Homo sapiens: one gene and its partner. Changing the gene in region 1 together with any one later gene gives a genetic interaction. Each region holds a gene or a part of one and is shown on either strand. Other genes may lie near its edges.

What was found.
Region 2: changes in MAP3K4 (region 1) and TOP3A are lethal when combined (synthetic lethality), as found in Homo sapiens cells (one large-scale study listed by BioGRID).

Annotation. Positions count from the first base shown.
Region 1 is NC_000006.12:160,994,611-160,998,427, forward strand, and holds part of MAP3K4 (mitogen-activated protein kinase kinase kinase 4), read left to right. Parts: intron 1-3,817. UniProt on the Homo sapiens protein: Component of a protein kinase signal transduction cascade. Activates the CSBP2, P38 and JNK MAPK pathways, but not the ERK pathway. Specifically phosphorylates and activates MAP2K4 and MAP2K6.
Region 2 is NC_000017.11:18,280,219-18,284,035, reverse strand, and holds part of TOP3A (DNA topoisomerase 3-alpha), read left to right. Parts: intron 1-1,194; coding exon 1,195-1,338; intron 1,339-3,377; coding exon 3,378-3,500; intron 3,501-3,817. UniProt on the Homo sapiens protein: Releases the supercoiling and torsional tension of DNA introduced during the DNA replication and transcription by transiently cleaving and rejoining one strand of the DNA duplex.

The DNA of each region.
Region 1 (3,817 bases):
TCTTTTTCATATGATTAGTTGTTTTCCTTTGGGTAGATACTCAGTAGTGGGATTGCTGGATCAAATGGTAGTTCTACTTTTAGTTTTTAGGTTTTTTTAGTTTTTTTTGAGACAGAGTCTTTCTCTGTTGCCCAGGCTGGAGTGCAGTGGCGTGATCTCAGCTCGCTGCAACCTCTGCCTCCCGAGTTCGAGCAATTCTCCTGCCTCAGCCTCCCGGGTAGCTGGGATTATAGGTGCCTGCCACCAGGTCCAGCTCATTTTTGTATTTTTAGTAGAGACAAGGTTTCACCAAGTTGGTCAGGCTTGTCTTGAACTCCTGACCTCGTGATCCGCCCATCTTGGCCTCCCAAAGTGTTGGGATTACAGGCGTGAGCCACTGCGCCTGGCCAGTTTTTTAAGGAATCTCCATATTGTTTTCCACAGTAGTTGTACTAGTTTACATTCCCACCAGCAGTGTATAAGAGTTCCCTTCTCACCACATCCATGCCATTGTCTATTTTTTTAATTATTATTTTTAAATTATGGCCATTCTTGCAGGAGTAAGGTGGTATCTCATTGTGGTTTTAATTTGCATTTCCCTGATAATTAGTGATGTTGAGCATTTTTTCTTATGTTTGTTGAAAATGTGTGAAATGCCACCTTTTAATACATTGGAAACCAATAATGTGATAATTTATGCTACCAGGTTAACTGGTTTTGCCACAGACTAGAATAAAACTCTGTTTGCCATCTTTGTCACATACTTTATGTCTGTGTGTCATTGATTAGGAAGGTTGTGTTAATGCACAGGCCTTTTGTAGAATTCAGGCCTGTACATGTTGGCCTCCAAAGCTGTGCAGCAAGTGTGCCATCGTGGCAGGTGCAGCCAGCCCAGCACATCTGCCTAGTGTGTGCTTTCCTCCTGACCCAAGAGTGTTATGCAGTGACCCAGCAACACAAAACAGGCAGAGAGGTCATAGTACTCTATTCCAGTTTTATTGCTTGCTGTCAGTTGTGGATACTTTTGTCCTTATTTTTGATAAAGAATTCATGATAAGGATAGCTGTTGTTATTGTTAGTGATTAAATTTTGAAATAAACATTGCTTATCATTTCTTTTTCAAGCTTCTGGGGCAGTTTTAGGAGGATCCTGAGGTGACTAGGAGAGCTATTAAAACTAATTTGGAACAATTTACCTTTGTGACTTATTGGATCTGTACACCTAAAACACAGAATAAATTGGATATTAAGGCTGATATAATGCTCTTGTTTACTATAACCTTTCATTTAAAATATTTATATTAAAAATAGCCTCATTGTTCTCATTGTCCTTATGAGTACATGCTGCATAAATTTAACAATTAACTTTTTTTAAAAAATGAATTATTTACTTTATATATTTATTGTAAATTCATTTGAAAAACTGGATTTCCTACTAAAAAACTAGTTGAATGTCGTCACTCCTAGGCAATTTGCTCTGCCTCTCGGCTTGAATGTCCACCTTGAGCCTGTGTGTTTCAGTCTTGACCTTGTATGTCAACTGTTCTCCCTGGCAAAGTCAGCCTCCTGTGGTGCTCCAGACTGTTGGTGTAGCATCAGTGATGGTCATGCCTTTACACCACTGTAACAGTAGATGCCATTGGCGGGGGTGGCGTTAGGCAGAGAGGAGTCACCAAACAGCAGTGATGGCAGAAACTTCATGTTTTCAACTGGGGACTTGTCACTTAGGAGGACTTTGTAGTTCCCTTTAATTTTCTGTCATTGTTAGAGGCCACTCTGTTTCCTTCATGTATGCTCTCATGGTGTCCTGCAAATCTTGTTCTGAGCTCTGCTGAAATACGGGGATATAAAGGTCTTGCCTGCTCACTGGATACATTTGTTGTAATAACTTCCTGTTATTTAATAATTCCTCATTCCTCATGACTATGATTTTACTCATAGCATTCTATTGTCTCAGCCTTGTCATTTGACCAGGTAGTATGTATGCTGTTTGAAGACTCTTTAACGTTGCCTATCAGTAGGCTACTGGTAGTGGTTTCTTTAAAGAGAAAATGGAAAACGTGAGAGAAGGAGATTAGCTGAAGACTCCGTAGGTCTTCATAAGCTGGCACTCCCTTGGCACGATAATCAAGGCCCAGACACTCACTGTGCTTGGCTTCTCAGGCACAGATACTCAGCTTTGTCTGTACACCTGGTTAGTCAGTGTATTCTCTTGCTTGTAGAAAGCCAAAGTATAATTAAGAGATTGATTAGTAAGCATGATATTAGCAAGGGAAATGAGTTGAATGATCCCGGTGACTCATGTTAGCAGACCAGTGAGGTGGGCTTGCATCCCTAGCAGGTGCACCCCTGCTTCTGAATGAGAGGCAGTGTGATCCAGACTTACTCTTAGGTTTTTATTTTCTAGGCATCACACAGGCTGCTTTTTTCCCTTGTGTCACAAACTTTCCTAAATTGTTTGGGTTATAGTATGTTTGTTTTAATCTTCAGTCTTTATAACAAACCTTGCTTTTCCTGCTTTAATTTGGGAGTATATTTTATCCTTCTCACTTTAAGATTTCTTTTTTTAAACCTCAGTGGTACGGTACATTTTTACTAATGGTGAGTCTCAGAGGATCACCTTATTGTCTCCATCCCCCACCCAGTATTCTCCCCATAATCTCTGTCCCACCACCCCTCGCCAAGAATCCTTTAGCATAGTTTCTCAGAACAATGTGGCAAAGATGTCAGTGGTTGGTGCTTTCATAAAATTCTTTTTGAATATTGTGTTCAAAAAGGATCATGATGGTATCTGGCTTTTCTGGATTTAAGTCATAAAATTAAATTTTAAAAAATCAGAACCACATCAGAATTCTATCCAGTTATTAAAAACTGTTTTTAAATAGTGTTTAGTGACATGTGAAGATGCTCATGATACAACTCCTTTTGGGGTGGTACCTGAGTAGCTCTTCTTAAGAAGATTCTCAAGTATTTCTGATGTATACATACTCACCGCTGTGTTCAGCAAGAACAAACAGACTATGAAACAGAATTTGCAGAAGATGGGAGCCAAAATTTGAGGTAGTTTTTCATCTCATACACATATTTGTCCACCGGCTGTGTCTGCCCTACTTCACTGTCTTCCTTCTACCTTATTTGGGGGAATTCCTCTCTTGACTCAAACTACATGGTACATATTGGAGCTGCCCTCTTCTTACAGATGCCAGGCCATAGGCATGACACTTGACCCAGTCCAGGCCAATTAGGATTCTTTCCTGGGATTTTTCAAATTGGAGCTGGGAGAGAGAAACGCGCATTTTACTGAAGTATAGGCTGAGAATTCATGAGCCTAGAGCTAGCTTCCTGAAGCTCCTACAGAGGACCTGGTCTCAGAGAGTGATGTTAATCCCCAGAGAAAAGCAGAGAGGCTGAAAGAGGTCTATGGCCAGTTGCCTTTAAAATAAATAAATAAATAAAAATAAATAAAGAGATGGCAGTCTCTGTATGTTACCCAGGCTGGATTCAAACTTCTGGTCTCAAAGAATTCTTTTGCCTTGGCCTCCCAAGTAGGTGGTACTACAGGTGCGCACCACCACACTGTCAGCCAGTTGCCCTTTTGTGCTAGATTTGTCCCTATTTTTCTCCTGATTTGATGTGAGCTAATCTCTATTTGTGCTTAAACTATTAATTTGAGTTAAACTTCTTAAAACCCTAATACTCAGTGTGATCGCATTTTAAAAAGTATGTGCATAGAAAAAAGATATAAAAAATACATACTAATTTTTCCTAAAACTTTTTATGATGAACGTGTTACACATTTTATTTTAAAATAAAAAGCTAATCAGAGAGCCTAAATTCTT
Region 2 (3,817 bases), on another chromosome or scaffold:
AGAGTGAGACTTCTTCAACAACAACAAAAACAAATCAAACAATTGGGTTTGGGGCACATCCAAATAGCTAAACAGGTAAAGACTCCTGGAGGGTGGGTGTTTGGGAGAGGGCATGGAAGCTACCCCTTCCCCACATCCCTTGCCCTGTGCATTGCTTCCATCTGGGTATTCACCTGGATCCTTTGTAATTAACGGGTAAGCATAAGTAAAGTGTTTCCCTGAGCTCTGTGAGCCACTCTATTGAGAATCAAACCAAGGAGGGGGTCTGAGGAACCCCAGTTTATAGCCAGTCAGTCAGAAGCACAGGTCACAGCCTGGGATTTGTGACTGACATCTGAGGGAATTTGGGGCAGCAGTCTTCTGGGACTGAGCCCTTAACCGTTAGATGGATCTCCAGGTGCATAGTGTCAGAATTGAATTGAATTAGAGGATGTCCAACTGGTGTGTGGCGGGAGAGTTGCTTGGTGTATGGGGAAAACTCCCATACATCTGGTGTCTGATGTGTGTTGTGAGACTGTAATAGAAGATAACAGTTTGTTATTTTCTGTTCTTTAGAGTACCCCATGCCAGTTGTGAAAAGGCAGGCATGAGCTAGTTTAGACTTAATACAGACAGACACTCCTGGAGTTTGTACATGGACCCTGTGCAGTTTTACTTTTTTTTTTTGAGATGGAGTTTCGCTCTTGTTGCCCAGGCTAGGGTGCAATGGCGTGATCTTGGCTCACCACAACCTCTGCCTCCTGGGTTCAAGCGATTCTCCTGCCTCAGCCTCCTGAGTAGCTTGGATTACAGGCATGCGCCACCATGCCTGGCTAATTTTGTATTTTTAGTAGAGACGGGGTTTCACCATGTTGGTCAGGCTGGTCTCGAAATTACAACCTCAGGTGATCCGCCCGCCTCGGCCTGGGATTACAGGCGTGAGCCACCACATTTGGCCCAGTTTTACTTTTTAATGTGGGCTGGTGACAAGCAGAAGCATCTGCCTGTATCTGGACTCTCCTCCCAAGAGTTGGTTCGGCACCAGGGCCCATGGTGAGCTCAGTCTTCTGTCTGCCGTCTGTTCTCTGCAGGAGGCCTGCGGCTCACTGACCAGCTGGTTCTCAAGGTCACGCCTGTTGTGTGCATGTAAGAGTGTTGTAGGTGCCTTTGCAGCGATTGCTGGCTGATGGGTGTCTGTCTTTGCCTTTTCTTCAGATTGGACGAGGCCTTGGCCCAGTACTTTGGGAATGGGACAGAGTTGGCCCAGCAAGAAGATATCTACCCAGCCATGCCAGAGCCCATCAGGAAGTGCCCACAGTGCAACAAGGACATGGTCCTTAAGACCAAGAAGAATGGCGGGTGAGTGCGCTGCCTTCTGCCCCCACCTCTGCTCCCCAGCACCTGCGGTGTCAGCCGTAGCTCGAAAGACCCTGCCATTTCACTCCATGGAATCTTTCAAGACAGGCCTGTTGTTGCCAACCTGCAGGCAAGGTGTTGGCCTAAAAGCATAGCAGGGTGGGATCAGGCCTTTGAGGTGTAAAGCACTATGGGAATTCAGAGCAGGTGAGAAACTGAATGATAGTGGGGTTTTTTTGTCCCCTGTGGATAGGACATCATATACCCAATGTGTAACACATGGAGGAGCATGAGCTTCAGATCTAGGTGGGTCTGGGTTCAAATGCCACTTATGCCGCATATAAGTGGTGTGGCCTGAAGCAAGTTACTTACCTGCTCTGAACCCCAATTTCTTCTTTTATAAAATGTCAGTACTTACAAGGCTGTGTTAAGGGTGAGGATTTGGTGAAAATGGTCAGGACTATATAGCACATTGCCTGATGTGTTGTAGATACTCAGCAGATACTACTTTTGTTCTCTCCTAGTTTTAGTTCTGAATGGGGCCTGAAAATCTCAACTCCCTTTTCGCTTTAAATATAGTAGATCTGAGTGGGCAATTTAGCTTCACATCAGGTTGTTGGAGCCAGTGGCTGGCCACTGGAGGAAGTTCACGGGGAAAGACGAGGTGGAGGGGTGGCAGCCATCATTCATCAGGTGCCGTCCCTCACTGGTGTAATGCAGGGTGGTGCTCTGTAAGCATTACCTCATCCCATTCTCCTAACTACCCTGCAAGGCAGGGATTTTTATGCAGCTTAGAGGGCTGAGGTGCTTGCTTGGAGTCAAGCAGCCGTGGTGGGCAGCAGAGTTTGAAACCGGGTTTTCACTGCCTTTTTCCATCCTGCCTGGCCCACCTGGGACTGCTGTGCTCCTTGCTGCTGAATAAGAAAGGAGGTTTCTCAACTCCTCACCTCCAGCCATCATTAACCTGGCTGGCCCAAGTGAAGAGAAGGCCACCCAGGCTCTCAGAAACAAGAGGTCTATGGGCCAGACCTGGAAGCAGGTGTCAGGGCTCGCGTCACTCACAGACAGAAGCCAGTGCCACTCTAGGCTTAGCCCAATGACTGGGCGTATATTTCAGCACTTAATAAATGCTGTCGATGGGTTTTCCTTGCTATCGGTAGGTTATTGGATTAGTACTCATTGGAATATAAGGAGAGAGAATAACTACTTTTGTTTTAGCTCTGAATTCTCCAATTCTCTGAATTGGAGAATTATTATTATTCTTTAGTTATTCGTTTGTTCTTCTGTTATTCTTTTGTAATGCTTCTCTGAGTTACTCCAGAAGGTCAGGAGATTATCTTGTGGGATTTGCCACTCCATGATTTATCTGTTAATTTCCATTTCTGAGATTGTAAATTTCTTATTTAAATGATTGGAGTTCGGGGCTTTTTTTTCCTTCATAGTGTACCCAGGCACACTCATGAGGAATTTGTAAATCACATGCATATTAGCTAGTCAAACCCTAACGTTTCATGACTGCAAGGTGTTGAAAAACATTGGCCAGGAGAGACCGGGATGGGATGGATGGGCAGTGGGTGGGGTGTAGATGTTGCAGGTGAGGCTTTGTCACAAACAGATGGGTTTCCATTCCTGGCTCCCATCCACACATGCATGCATGTCTCTGGGCAGGTTTCCAGGCCACACCAAGCCACTGTTTACTCACATGCAAACTGAGGGGGCCCCTGACACTGCCCAGACTTGGCACGAGGCAGAAAGGCAAGAATGTGTGAGTGCACAGCACAGAGCCCCTGGCGTCAGCTTGGTTGGTTGTTGGTTTTCTAAATAGAAAGCAGGGCCAGCAATAGCTGCTTTGTGCTTTTGGGATGTGAGAAGGCTCATTTTTCCCAATCAATTCAATATGAGTGCTTGTGTATCCAGTTAAGTGTCATCCAGAAAAGGGAATGTTGTCCTCGGGCAGCTGAGGAAAGGCTGCCTTAGCTGATGGCCAACAGCGGAGAGCATCTCCTGCACTCCTATCATCTGACATGGCACTTTGTCCCCAGGTTCTACCTCAGCTGCATGGGTTTCCCAGAGTGTCGCTCAGCTGTGTGGCTTCCTGACTCGGTGCTGGAGGCCAGCAGGGACAGCAGTGTGTGTCCAGTTTGTCAGCCACACCCTGTGTACAGGTGAGCTGGGCACCTGAGTCAGGTGCCTCCTCTGGAGTGTGTACACCATCTTTCCCTTGCTCCTGCCAGAACCCAGAGAGGAGTGTCGGGGATTCCACTCAGGCCCTGCAGGGGCGTAGCTGTGTTCTGCAGCAGCCAGTTCAGCAGGGCTGGTCCAGTTCTGTTGTGTTCCATGCTGTCACTGCTTTGGCAGGTATGACCCTGTTTGGAGTGGGCCATGGGCAAAGAACCATGAAGGGCTCTTTCCCTGCCCTCTCCAGATAGATGATTGCTACACCAGGCTTAGGAAATTATTCACATATTAAATACAACATCCA